Homo sapiens: one gene and its partner. The protein of the gene in region 2 interacts with the protein of the main gene of each other region in a pairwise test. Each region holds a gene or a part of one and is shown on either strand. Other genes may lie near its edges.

Region 1 (7,026 bases), on a different chromosome or scaffold from region 2:
ACTAATCCCTTTAAATCTCCTGTTGTCCCTACAAAACAAATGGGGAACCTAGTAGGACTGGGGACTGAATTATTCCCAATTACTGCCTGAAATTTTTTCTAAATAGAAGGACTAGTCTTTTTTAGAGTTTGGCAAAAGAAAGTTTCAAGCCTTCTTTCATTCTTGATTTAATAGCAATTTCATTGTGATGACCACTTTACCAGATGAAAATGGCCCTTTGTCATTTGTTCATTGAGCAAATGTTGGGAAGTTTAGGACCAAGTGTCATGAAAATATAAATCAAGCAAAAAAAAAAACAACATTTCCCTCAAACAGTTTATTACTTAGTAAAGGGGCTAGACTATATATATATATATATATATATATATATATATATATATATATATATATATATATAAAATACAACTACTACACAGGTAAAATAAGTGTCCTAAGAAGGGAAGATCAAGTGCCAAGGAGAGGTAGAAAAGAAAAAGTCCCTCCCCTGCCAAAGCCAACAGATTTCTGCAGAGGAATGTGAGGTAAAGCATGTACAGCACTTGGCATATGGCATTTGTTCAATAAACCTGATTGTATTGCCATTATTTTTGGTGTTATGACATAGCGAATAGAAAAACCATCATAAGCAAAGATGGAGGTGGGTAAATGTGGTGTATCACAGAGAAGAGCAGTTCAATGTGACTCAAGAACAAGAAGAAAGAAGAATGTATGAAGGGGAGTTCTAGGAAATCCCTTGAAAAGTAATTGGTCATGGAAACATGGATTTAAAAAAGGAAAGTAATTGGGATCAAATCAGGAAAAGTCTTTGATGCAGTTTGAATATTTGTACCCACTCAAATCTCATGTTGAAATGTAATCCCCAATGTTGGATGTTGGAGGTGGGGTCTGGTGGGAGGTAGTCGGATCATGGGGATGAATTCCTCATAAATGGTTTAGTGCTATCCCGTTGGTGCTGTCCTTATGATAGTGAGTTCTAGTGGGATCTGACCATTTAAAAGCATGTAGTATCTCCCTACCCTTCACTTGCTCCTGCTTTCACCATGTGACATGTCTGTTTCTCCAGAGGGTACAAGCCATAAACCTTGGTGGCTTCTACATGGTGTTAAGCCTGCAGGCATACAGAGTGCAAGAATGAAGAATGCTTGGCACCCTTCACCTAGATTTCAGAGGCTGTATGAGAAAGTGTGGGTGTTCATGCAGAAACCGGCTGCAGGGGTGGAGCCCCCAGAGAGTACCTCTACTAGGGCAGTGTGGAGGTAAAATGTGGGGTTGGAGCTCCCACACAGAGTCCCCACAAGGACACTGCCTAGTGCAGCTGTGAGAAGGGGGCCACCATCCTCCAGACCCCAGAATGATAGACCCACTGGCAGCTTGCACCCTGGGCCTGGAAAACCACGGGCACTCAACAACCTGTGAGAGCAGCCACAGGGGCTGAACTCTGCAAAGCCACAAGGGTGGAGCTATCCAAGTCCTTGGGAGCCCACCCCTTGTATTGGTGTGCCCTGAATGTGGGACATGGAGTCAAAGGAGATTATTCTGGAACTTTAAGATTTAATAACTGCCCTGCTGTGTTTCAGACTTGCCTGGGGCCTGTAGCCCATTTGTTTTGGCCAGTTTCTCCCTTTTGGAATGGGAATGTTTACCCAGTATCTATACCCCCATTTTATTTGGGGAGTCAATAAGTTGTTTTGATTTTATAGGCTCATGGGTGGAAGGGACTTGCCTTATTTCAAATGAGACTTTGGACTTGGAACTTTTGATTGAGTTTGTGCTGGAATGAGTTAAAATTTGGGGAACTATTGGGAAGATATAATTGTATTTTGCAATGTGAGAAGGACATGAGATTTTTGGGGGGCTAGAGATGGAATGATATGGTTTGAATATTTGTCCCTGCCAAAATCTCATGTTGAAATGTAATTCCCAGTGATAAAGGTGGGGCCTGGTGGGACATGACTGGATCATGGGAGTGAATTCTCATGAAGGGTTTAGCACCATTCTGTGGTGCTATCTTCATGATAGTGAATGAGTTCTCACAAGATCTGGTCATTTAAAAGTGTGTGGCACCTCCCATCTCCTCGCTTGCTTCTGCTTTCACCATGTGACATGCCTATTCCACCTTTGGCTTCTCCCATGATTGAAAGCTCCTCGATGCTTCACCAGAAGCTGGAAGATGCCAGCACTGTGCTTCCTGTAAAGCTACAGAACCATAAGCCAATTAAACTTCTTTTCTTTATAAATTACCCAGTCTCAGGTATTTCTTTACAGCAATGCAAGAACAGTCTAATGCAGTCTTTAATAATAGGCTACAGAGTTTGGATTTCATCCTTTAGAGTCTAAAGTTTAGATATAATTGTTTCTCCTTTCCACCACAGATCACTTAGGAAAATGGCTGTTGGTATGATCCTAGCATGCCTGGCATTTGCAGTTGCGGCAGCTGTAGAGATAAAAATAAATGTGAGTTCAGTAATTCTTAAGCTCTATGAGGGCAGGATCATATCTTTCTTATTTGCTCTTTTGACTTGTTCAGTCATGATTCCCTGGGACCTAGCACAGTACCTGTTTTATAAGAGGTGCATCATAAGTATTTGTGATAAATAAGTAGATACAGGGGTAAAACAGCAATGCAAAATGAGGCCCACCTCCCACCTGAGTGACTCAGAATGTATTTTCAGGGAATTCTCAAACACTAATATCCAAGAGAGCCCTCTCCTTAGGGAACACAGGCTTATGTGATGCCTTTCTACATACTCAAGTAAAAACCTTTTGGCAGATTGAATAGCCACTATTACGGATGAGGCCACAGCTGAGTCAAAAAGCATCGAGTTTGTAAGCTGGCATTGGTACTTGCTACAATGAGCTGATGTTTCCCTCTCCAAGCTGCCTTTAGAGTTTTCTAAGCCAAATATTTTTCAGAGGGAGAAAACTATGTCTACTTGGCTAGTGGACTAGGCTGTCAGAAACAACTGAGATATGTGTTGCCATTGTATCTGAAGGATTATTTGTTGGTGATTCTGACATGTGTTCTTTGCTCTAAGGAAATGGCCCCAGCCCAGCCAGGTCCCCAGGAGGTTTTCCTACAAGTCTTGAATCTGGCAGATGATGAGGTGAAGGTGACAGTGGTGGGAAATGAAAACAATTCTCTGTTGATAGAGTCCATCAAATCCTTTCAGGTGAGGTGTGTACCTGAATGAATTAGAAACTCTGTATGCTATATTGATCTTGATTTTTCCTTAACATTAATTGTATCATAAGCATCTTCCCATGTCTTTAGATAATCTTTGAGCACATGATTTTAATGGGCATATAATATTCCATTCTATAGATATACCATAGTTTATTTAGACATTTCCACATAGGTATTCCGTTTTTATTATTATACATAATCCTACAATGAACATTCTTATTCATAAATATTTATGCATGGCTCTGATTATTTCTTAGGGTAAATTCCAAGAAATAAAATGGCTAGGTTAAAGAAAGGAATTACTAGGTTGAAAGTGTCTGATGAGGTCACCTACCCTGAGATGCTACATCGTGATGTCCAATATGCAGTAGAAGGTGTACGTGACCTTCATTTTATATTCTTCATTTTACAGAAAACACCACACTATTCCAAACTGCACCTGAAAACAAAAAGCCAGGATTTTCACTTCCACCTGAAATATCACAATTTGTCTCTCTACACTGAGCATTCTGTGCAGGAGAAGAACTGGTACAGTCTTGTCATTCGTGAAGATGGGAACAGTATCTCCAGCATGATGGTAATTTGAGGAATTGCCTGTGTTTTCAGTTGTCATCTCAAAGTAATATGACTGTCTCATCAACATCTTACCAAGGATCTGCCTGATGATCAAATTTTCTGAGTATAGGTCTTATTTCATCAGCTGTTACTGATTTTTACTTTCCTCTGTTGTAGGTAAAGGATACAGAAAGCAGAACAACCAATGGGATGACAACCGTGAGGTTTGAATGTCAATGAGATTCCAGGCCACTCTGTTTTCTTGAATCTTGGATCTCTTCTAATCTTTGGGGCTGCATTCTACTTGTTCTGAACAGGAATTCCCTCTCGTAGAATGCCAGGGGCACTGGTGTCAAAAGGCATTTTCTAGGACAGTGAGAGGCAGATAGGCTTCTTTTCTCATGTGGGATTCGAAGATGACTCTATCTGTGTATGCCCCCTGTACTCTGGGGCATAAATCCTTTCTGCTGAATTTTATCTATTTATCTTGCTCTCAGGAAAATAACTGAGTACTTTTCTCTCTGTGATCGCCAGAGAGAAATTTGGAAGTGAGAAAATAATCCTCCCTTCATTTTTGATAGTTGAATATATATCTTTTAAAGTATAGTTTTTATTATAAGCCTGTAGAGGCATCATGGTATAGCACACATTTGGAGTCAAAAGACTTAGTTTTGAATCCAGATAAGGCTGAAGGGTCTTGTCAAATGGTGAGGGACAGTTACAGAGATGGAGTACCCAAGAGGACATGTGTTCTCTGTGGCTGGTATTAGATATGAAATGGACAGATACACAGGTCTATGGCCACCAAGGTCAAGTGGTTGCTGTTGAGAATAGCATTTTAGTGGAGAACTTTTAGTGAAAAGTCTGGATTTCACTGAAGGTTGGGACAGTCATAATAACTTGCTTTTGAATATGCTTCAAAAAAAGTAAACAGCTCAAAATAAGACAATGTGAGGTCAGAGAGCCATGGGCCCCCAGAAGGGGCATTTTCTAGGTCAGTGTAGAATGATCTAAAGTCTAGGAATCAACATTCAGGACTCTAAAGGGAAATGTCCTTCTTATTCCTGGGGCCAGAGACCAAATCAAAAGCTATCAAAACAGAAATGTACCAAAACCCATCCTGAGAGGACAATCTAGGTGCCAGGTTCAGAAAAATAGAAAGATGGTCTTGGAAGGGTCCAAAGTTTCTGCAGACTCCAAAACAATTATAATAACCTACTCTGGGCTGGGAGTCTGAGTTTTGCATAGGTCACATTGGACTTCATTTATAAGAGGATAAGATATCAGTTTTATGTAAATACTATCATATCTTTATATATGCATAATTATCTTATTTTTCTTAGTAAAGTCTCAGTTGATAGATTCCACCATTATAAGGGAAATAAATTAGATGCACCTAAGCTGGATTAGTGAGGAAACTCAGATTTCCATGAATGATCATGATAGTGTCCGTCTAGCTAGAGGTCTGGTGAGGATGTGGCAGATAAAAGTTCAAGAAAAAGAAACTTAGGGACAGCTAAGACTATGGATTACTTTTTACGTGTGGGTTCATTCGTCTAGTTAACAATATACATTAGGTACCTTTTATGTGCCAGCCACTATCCTAGGCACCTGGGCACTGGGGATATAGTTATACCCAAAACATAAAAGGCCCCTAACCTCTTTTATCAGGTGTTCCTGTTTGTTTGATATGTAAATAATATCTCTACCCTCAGGTTTGTTAACACTTTGCATAAAGATGTCAACATCTCCCTGAGTACAGATACCTCTCTCAATGTTGGTGAAGACTATGGTGTGTCTGCTTATAGAACTGTGCAAAGAGGAGAGTAAGTGCATTGCCCCTGTGGACATTTTACTTTTGTCAATAATTGTTTTTTAAGTGCTATCTTTGTATATAGGTGGGGAACTTAGGTGCATGTGGTCTAATTTTGAGTATAGACGCACTACTGATCTTTTCCAACTCTTGCTTCCTTCCCTCAGTCTCACTTTTTTTCTGCACAGATATGTTGAGATCACGATTGCCGTGAAGACCACACTATATAGTTAACACAGCCCATCTCTGTATAGTTAACACAGTCCGTCTCTGTGAGTTTCTCAAAGTTTATTATTGGTTTCCATTTCTACTAAAGAAGGTACTTTGGTACCTTACACTGGCACTTCATTACTTAGAGCTTATCTTCTCAGGTTCACTGTTATAGCCTGTTCTACTAAGTCATAAGATTTGCATGAGGAAAATTCACATGGTACTTAAGTTAACAAAAGAATATGATTTGTAACTTCTTTATTTAGGTTGAATATTTTAGAAAATACCTGACAAGCAATAAAGAGCTCAAATCAGGGACAGAAGCCTGGCATGAAAATAACCTACTCCAAGAAACATTTCTCTTCAAAGATAATTAGTGGCTTCACTGCTTTCCTCACCATCAGTAGAGAGATGAGATCACTTTCACCTGGAGATGGGAATGCTTTTCCAAGCCTTGATATTTATTCTAACCTAAATTCATCCTGTTCCAGATACCCTGCAGTGCACTGTAGAACAGAAGATAAGAACTTTTCTCTGAATTTGGGTCTTCTAGACTTTGGTGCAGCATATCTGTTTGTTATTACTAATGTAAGTAGCTCACAGCCACCTCTTTACCCTCTCTCCATATACATATATCTCCTGAGATCCTCTAGGCAGGGGCAGAAAACAAAAGAGAAGACTCTGTGGCAAAGCAGACACGTATATTTATTTCTAGCATAAGATGACAGGTTCTACAGTGACTTTAATTATTTTTATTTTTATTTTTTTTGAGACAGAGTTTCGCTCTCATCGCGCAGGCTGGAGTGCTGTGGCACCATCTCGACTCACTGCAACCTCTGCCTCCCGGGTTAAAGTGATTCTCCTGCCTCAACCTCCCCGAGTATCTGGGATTACAGGCACCCACCACCACCATGCCCAGCTAATTTTTGTATTTTTAGTAGAGATGGGGTTTTGCCGTGTTGGCCAGGCTGGTCTCAAACTCCTGACCTCAGATGATCCACCAGCCTCAGCCTCCCAAAGTGTTGAGATTACAAGCGTGAGTCACCGCACCTGGCTCTACAGTGACTTTAGAAAGCCCACTGTCTCTGTAGGGGTTGTTAAGAGATAACATCAACAACAAGCAAAGGGTCTTGGGGAAGGAGAAACATAATTTATCTTGAGCCATCACTGTGAGATGCCACAGCTTGCTCCAGTCTTTTTATGTCTCCAATCAAACACAAGTTATTTATGAAAAAGTACTAATGTCTTCTTGGCCAGCTTCATA
Region 2 (7,515 bases):
TGAGAACTGGTGAAACATACGTTTTTCTTTTGTGAAATAGGACAATTGCAAGGAGAGGTGACAAAAGATAAATTTTAATCCAGATAGATACATTTTGGGGAGAAGTACATATAGAGGTAGAGGACTTGGAAAATAATTCCCTTAAAACTATACATATATTCCCCTGGAAAATGTCTAATGTATTCTCAGGGATTGACTCCTCCAGTTTGAAGACTGCTGAGGTATATGATAACCAGCTACATGGTTAGAAAGATCTTTCCGCTACTGAAATAATGAATTGAAAGAGGCTCCCCATCCTACATCTGTTTCACTACATTTCTGTTCTCTCTTGAGTATGTAGGTTAGGATAAATCTATTTTCTATTGACGATACTCCGAATATTTTAAGAGGCTATGCTACATTCCCCACATCTTTCCATCTCTAAGATTAGTATTCCCTTCTCCTTGAATTGCTTATCTATCATTGTTTTCAGTCCCTTCATCTTTCTAGTCATCTTCCTGTAAAGGACACTAATACTTATCAAATTTTTTTCTGAATTTTGATGTCCAAAACAATATAATGCTTCTATTGCCAGGGATAAAATGTCAATCTTAGTAATTTTCTTTATAATGTAATGGGCTACTATTTATTGAATGCTTGCTATATGCTCAGTGCTTAAAATAGCACTGCAAAAAATGATTCTATTATTCCCATTTTGCAGATGAGAAGACTGAACTAGAATAAAACTAGATAACTAGAACAAAGTCAAGAACTTCACTCGACCTTTATTATTTATTTACTGGGTGGGGCAGTAGTTAATAGTAACATGACAACATATAAGCATACCTCTGTAGGTATGCAGGGGCCCAGACTGGAGGAGATATAAGATTAGGCAAAATGTCAAAATCAGCTAAACATTCTCTGGAAAAGTCCCTGTAAATCTAAGAGGAGCCTGGCATATATCATGCTGCACTGTGATTTAGAATGACCTGCCTTAGTCAAACTAGACTTTGTTCAGTCCAAGGGAATCTGTGGAGATCCTGTAGACTGCTCCTGGTTGGAAGGAAGGACCTGAACCATGGGGATTTCCCATCTTCCCTCCTACACTTCAACCAAGCATCTCTGCTTTTCTCTAGCTTTACATAATTACCCCAATCAGAAGTAGACAGAGGTAAAATAAAAATAAAAATAAGTAAGTGTGTTTGAAAGAGAGAAACAGAAAGGGAAAGAGAGAAAAGCCATTAGTCATGAAAAGTAGTCATAAAAAGAATTCTGACTTTGGAATCAGTTTACCTGTGTTTCAGCCCAATAATATATGTGGTAATATACTTCTCAGTGGGTTACTTAGACATTGTCTTTAAACACTCTGAGCTTTAGTTTTTTCACATTTCTTATAGCAGGTACTCAGATTTTTGTTGAACAAATGAGTAAATGAATAATTTTGTATTTTGGCAAAAATAACCTTACGAGGTTGTAGAGAGGATTAATGCTAATATAGGGTTTACTATAGCCTGGTACATAGTAGGTGTTTTGCAAATAAGGATAATAGCTATTATTATTATTGATTCAATGCTGCTTAGATTTAGGTACAGGTGCCCATGTGGCACTTTTATCTAAGTTAGATCGAGATTCTTCATTAAACTTGAAAGCAAATATTAAATGCTCTTAAATATTTGGAACATGCTTATGTCCAGAGGGGCTTTCCCATTACAAGGGAAGATTATAGGAATCTCAGGAGCTTCTTGGTTCTCTACTCTTGGGAGTGTGGCTTGTGAAGTTTGGTGGCGAAAATAGTGGCAACAATGGTGTTGTCTGGAAGAAGCCTTGCCATTCAGCCAGATGTGCCAAAAATCATGTGGCAACTCAGTGGGATCAATTCCTGCAGTCCAAGAGGTGCCCATATTTGCTGTCATTGCTCTTCCTTGGGTTTAAAACACACTACCCAATGACATCCAAATCTACGTATTTAGTACATTTGTCCTCTGGGTAAGAATAAATTATGAACCTACTGCCTATTCTTGAAAGAGAAAAGACAAAAAAGGGTACTATGCTTTTGATCTGAAAACTAATGTCTTTAATCTACCTAAATCATTGCTAGTTAAATACCATTTTCTGGTGAATCACATTTATCTGCTGTAGAGTATAAGTTCTCCAGATTAAGATCTTGTCTTTTCATAGGGTGTATAAAATAATGCACACAGCTTTAGCACTCCTGGTATAACAGATGGCTATCATTTGTAACAAAAGAATAACATTGGAAGCCTTCTGACATGTCCTAGAAGCTTGGTGTGCAAGAAGAATCCCATTACATACATATTGTAATCCCATTACAACATGTTGTAAAGGTATATTCCCCATAGGGAAAGCCCAATAACTAATTCCTTCAAATCTAGAAAACAGACGACTGAGAGTTAATTTTTTTTTTTTTTTGAGATGGAGCTTCACTCTTGTTGCCCAGGCTGGAGTGCAATGGCACAATCTTGGCACACTGCAACCTCTGTCCCCCAGATTCAAGCCATTCTCCTGTCTCAGCCTCCCGAGTAGCTGGAATTACAGGTGCCTGTCACCATGCCCGGCTTTTATTTATTTATTTATTTATTTATTTATTTATTTATTTATTTATTTTGTTATTTTTAGTAGAGACAGGGTTTCACCATGTTGGCCAGGCTGACCTCTAACTCCTGACCTCAGGTGATCCACCTGCCTCAGCCTCCCAAAGTGCTGACATTACAGGCATGAGCCACCGTGCCTGGCCAAGAGTTAATTCTAATTGCATAAAAATTCTTTGCTTTACAAAATAACATTTTTTAAAAAATTTTTTATTTTTTGCTAAAGAGTCTCTTGAAATAGCCAGATCTCTTTTTGGAGAATCCAAAATTGGATTTGCTTTACAAAATGTTTATTAGACTCAACTTTTCAGGAGCAAAGCGAGTGTGAAAAAATGGGACATTGCCTGTCAGGCATCAATGGTAAAGTGTCACTTAGTCACAGCGTAAAAAATAAATAAATAAATAAAAAGGCTCACCATTCCATCCCCTAAGCCCACCAAAGTCAAATTGTCCAAATGTGGCAGGTGGCTATTGCAGGCATCTGGTGCTCTCATTCCAGTCAGGAAGGTGAGGCTAGCATTGGGGTGGGGGCGGGGGGCAGACATCAGTAACTGTATGACCCTAAACACAGAGTCCGAAGAAGGGACCCCCAGATTACAGACAGCCTTTCCTCCACATATCAGACCCTCTTTCTTTACAAATACAGCAAATACAAGCAGATAACTGGGCATCAGTCATTTCTGATGCATTGCAGGAAAGAGCAACAACATACACTGTATCATTCAATTTATCAAGTAAACTACAGGCACTGTGCTAGACTCAAAGATAGAAAAGAAGACAGGGAGCAAAGAAGAAAACGCACGTTTAGTAAGACACCTGAGTGCCTTCAAAGACCATGCAATGTCTTTAGGTACTGTTCCCAGCTAGCTTCTCCAACAGAAAAATGAGCATACTCCATTTCAAAGCTGGATTCTGTAACCAAATGCACTATTCATATTTTTCCAAGGCTCCTAAACCAATAGTTAACTAGTCTCTTCCAAGATTTAGGGAGGCTGTTGAATTCTTTTCTGGAAGTTCTATGTATTTTGCTAAAAGTTGTGCTCCAAACACTTTACCAAGAATTAGGGTCAATGAAGGGGTACTTTGTGCAAGCTACAAATACTTGGAATTTTCATAAGGCAGTTCATTTCTGCCTTCCTGTGAATAATTTCATATTTCTTCCTTGTAAGACTAGGGTTTGTGTGCTCATGAGTGTCTAGATTGTCAGAATAGAAGGAGTGTTTAATACATTGAGTGGGTCTGGGGCCTGGAGATGAAGATGTGAGGGATGCAAGAAGGAGGATCTTGAATCAGATGGAGCGAAAGATAACTTGGAAACTCCAGTGGAGAAAAATGGCTAATTTGGATTGTTTAATTTGTTCAGGTTTGTGTTTTGGGTTCTGTCACACTTATGTTGAGAAACGTCCCTGCCATCTCTCTAATGCACGCAGTTTATGTTCAGAAACGGGCAGCACAGAGAGGAATTAGCGGTGGGGGAAATTTTCATCACCACCGGTGATGTGTGCACCGATGGTAGATGGCTATCCAGAGTGTAAAAATGTGATTCTGGGACCAAAGGGTCAGCTCTAGAACGAAATCAGACAGCTGGAGAACTGAAGATTCAACTCTTCCTAGGCAAGAGAGTGAGAAAGGTGGGTTGCTTGCAGGGTGGAGGTAGGGGTTGCTCCTCCTAGTTCCTGGGCTGGAGAAGGGCAGGGAACTGGGAAGTGTGTGTCAGAGGCTCGCTATGCTAGGACAAGGTGTTGGGGTACTAGGGTGGGTGGGGGCCTGAGGGGTGGCTTGGAGCCCTGGCGGTGGCTGCCTGACGTCACCGGCCTCTCTGGCAATAGGCTGCGAGCTCAGCTCCCTGAAGCGGCGGCGAAGGCGGCGGCGGCGGCGGCGGCGGCGGCAGCAGCGCGGCTCGGTCTCTGGTCCATTCACTCCACGCTTTCTGCAGCCGCCACTGCAGCCGCGCGGCGGGGGCTCCCTCCTTGCAGCCAGCCGGCGGTCCAGGTAAGAGACAAGGTGTGAGTAAAGGCTTCTGATGGCCGGGTGGCCTGACGGCCAGGTGCGAGTGGGGAGGACAGCTCACGCGGCCTGAGCAGCCACCCCTGGCCATAGCTCCAGCCCCCGCCCCTGCCCCCGGCCCCTGCCCTGGCTTGCTTGCGCGCTACCTCGCTACTCCGCAGTGCAACAGTTTGCAGCTGCCTCTTGGGAGCAGCAAGGAGGCTCTCCTGTGCGCTGCGGGTCTACCGGCTCCAGTATGCCGGAAAAGCCTCGGGGCCTTTGGGCTGGGTCTGGGAAGGACAGAAAGAAGGTCCCGTTCCCCAAACTTTGCAGGCGGGAACCCTCCCCTTTCCATTCCAGCTCCTCTAGAAAGAAGCAGGCTACTGCCAAGTTGGGGGCACAGGGAAATGGGGAGGAGGGGGCCGTTTGTGGGAATGTGTCAGCTGAGAAAGATGCTTCAGCTGCTTTTTTTTTTTTTTTTTTTTTTTTTTGGAGAGGGGAGAATACCAGGGAAGAAGGCTGGAGAAGAGATGGAGCGCGTTCCTGCGCGTCAGCCGCGGTCGCGGACAGAGGCAGAGTGGGATGTGGTGCCAGGGGTATCCCCCTGGGAATGGGACCCAAGGGATCTGACGCTGTCCAGGGAGGGCGAGTCTGGACGGGGAGGGAAAGGAAGGGAGGACTGCGTACCCGGAGCCCGCGCGGCGGCCCGGAGTGGGTGCTGGGAAGGGTAGGATCCAGGCGAAGACATCAACCGAGAGGGCGCAGAAAAGAGGAGAGCCGGCGCTCTGGGAAGTAGGGACTTCAACCAAAGCGGCTGCGTGTCTGTTGCAATTATAAAGTTGTGAAGGGCGGAAGGGAGGCTGCCTTATCTGCTGAGTAATCTGCACCTCCGCGGTGCCGGCGCAGACCCCATCCTGTCGAGTGGCATGAGCAGGCTGCTGGTGGCTCTGGTGCACGGCCACGGGCCGGCAGGCTGGGGTCCGCTGACCGAAAATACAGGCAGCGCCCAGCTCAGGCAGTGTGCCCAGAGGGCCGCTTTGCGGTGGTGGTTGATCTTTCCCGACAGCACTCCCCTGGGCAGCGGCCGAGATTCTAACTAAGCTTTGTGTCTTTGCAGCCTGGTGCCTCTGCAAAGGAAAGGGGAGCGTGGAGACGTGTTCGAGGTGGTATCGGCGAGGATCTCTCGGGCGCCGCTCACTCCTTGGTCGCCTTGCTTGCCAGCAGTTGCTCCCTTAGTCCTTGGCTCGCTCGCACACCCCCTCCCGCTACAGGGAGCAGTTTTGGGTGGCGTGGGCTCCGTCCTCTTCTTGGCTGGTAGGAACGGTGTGCCCAAGAGGGGAAGCCTAGTGGGCCTGGCCCCTCCCAGCCCCGCGCCAATGAGTGCCAGGGCGCCGAAGGAGCTGAGGCTGGCGTTGCCGCCGTGTCTCCTCAACCGGACCTTTGCTTCCCCCAACGCCAGCGGCAGCGGCAACACGGGTGCCCGCGGCCCAGGCGCAGTAGGCAGCGGCACCTGCATCACGCAGGTGGGACAGCAGCTCTTCCAGTCCTTCTCCTCCACGCTGGTGCTGATTGTCCTGGTTACCCTCATCTTCTGCCTCATCGTGCTGTCCCTCTCCACTTTCCACATCCACAAGCGTAGGATGAAGAAGCGGAAGATGCAGAGGGCTCAGGAGGAATATGAGCGGGATCACTGCAGCGGCAGCCGCGGTGGCGGGGGGCTGCCCCGACCTGGCAGGCAGGCCCCAACCCACGCAAAGGAAACCCGGCTGGAGAGGCAGCCCCGGGACTCTCCCTTCTGCGCCCCTTCCAACGCCTCGTCGTTGTCCTCTTCGTCCCCTGGCCTCCCGTGCCAGGGTCCCTGTGCTCCTCCGCCTCCACCGCCAGCCTCCAGTCCCCAAGGAGCACACGCAGCTTCCTCCTGTTTGGACACAGCTGGCGAGGGCCTTTTGCAAACGGTGGTACTGTCCTGATCGTCTAGCCCCTCTCGTTCCCCGTCCTCGTTTCCAGCATCTTTGCCACCCTTGCTTTTTTCCTTCTTCCTTCCTTTTCCATTTTCCTCTGGCCCCTCTTTCCTCTTCCTGGTTTCCTTACCTGCCCTCCCCTTACTCTTGTTTCTCCTCCGCCGAGGCACTGTGCGGTATTTGTAAATATTGGGCGAGGAAAGTCTCGGAAGAAGAAATAACGCTGATAATAATACTTTATTAATATTTATAGTAATTATTATAATACTAATAACACAATCCAAGCGCATGACAAATCACATAATTTCTAACTGTCAATGGAGGATGCATCTTCCCATTCCACCCCGCGCTCCCCTCAATTAGGAGGAGAAACCGCACAAGCTACCAAATATATAAAAGGCATTGATTCCCGGAGCAAAGGGAGGGGAGGGGGCCCGGTAATGTACATAGCTGTCAAGTTAAGATTTAGTTTCCTTCCTTCCCCTCTGACCCCTAAGCTTTCACTTTTCCTTTAGCTTCCCTTTCCTCCCCATTCCCACCCTCAGCCGGGCTCAGGCAATAGTATATTATAAAGAAAATGTCTACATTAAGCACCAGGACTGCAAGAGGCCATAGAGAATAGTCCCCGGAAAGTGTTTATGACAGGTACCCCTCGCCAGTCCGCCCATTTCTCACCCTTTGGTTAACCATTACATTTTCCAGGACAGAGCATTTAATTTACTTTTTAAAATGACCCTCGCTGGCCGAGCATAAGTACGTTAAAATCTTTAAATGAGTTTTTTTTAAAAAGCTAACGCTTTCATTCCCTGCCCCGCCCCCACCCGTACACCTTTGACTTGTGACATTTTCAGGATTTACAAAGGATCTGGGAGCTGTCCAGCCAGGTCTGGTGCTGAAGTCGCCTCACCGTTCTGATTACTTCCTCTAGTTGTGAAGGCAGAGGAGGGGCTGTTTTGGAAAGTGACTATTCTGGCTTTTGG

What was found. The genes of interacting proteins can lie anywhere in the genome.
Region 1: the proteins of C11orf87 (region 2) and SLC15A2 interact in binary tests that used the Homo sapiens proteins (3 or more experiments, as listed by UniProt).

What each region holds. Positions count from the first base shown.
Region 1 is NC_000003.12:121,925,386-121,932,411, forward strand, and holds part of SLC15A2 (solute carrier family 15 member 2), read left to right. Parts: intron 1-2,372; coding exon 2,373-2,454; intron 2,455-3,035; coding exon 3,036-3,170; intron 3,171-3,596; coding exon 3,597-3,761; intron 3,762-3,916; coding exon 3,917-3,963; intron 3,964-5,454; coding exon 5,455-5,565; intron 5,566-5,740; coding exon of another isoform or gene 5,741-5,786; exon of another isoform or gene 5,787-6,247; intron 6,248-6,253; coding exon 6,254-6,350; intron 6,351-7,026. UniProt on the Homo sapiens protein: Proton-coupled amino-acid transporter that transports oligopeptides of 2 to 4 amino acids with a preference for dipeptides. Transports neutral and anionic dipeptides with a proton to peptide stoichiometry of 2:1 or 3:1.
Region 2 is NC_000011.10:109,417,684-109,425,198, forward strand, and holds the start of C11orf87 (uncharacterized protein C11orf87 precursor), read left to right. Parts: upstream 1-4,506; 5' UTR 4,507-4,580; intron 4,581-4,754; exon of another isoform or gene 4,755-4,884; intron 4,885-5,095; exon of another isoform or gene 5,096-5,184; coding exon of another isoform or gene 5,185-5,366; intron 5,367-5,691; coding exon of another isoform or gene 5,692-5,950; coding exon 5,951-6,544; 3' UTR 6,545-7,515.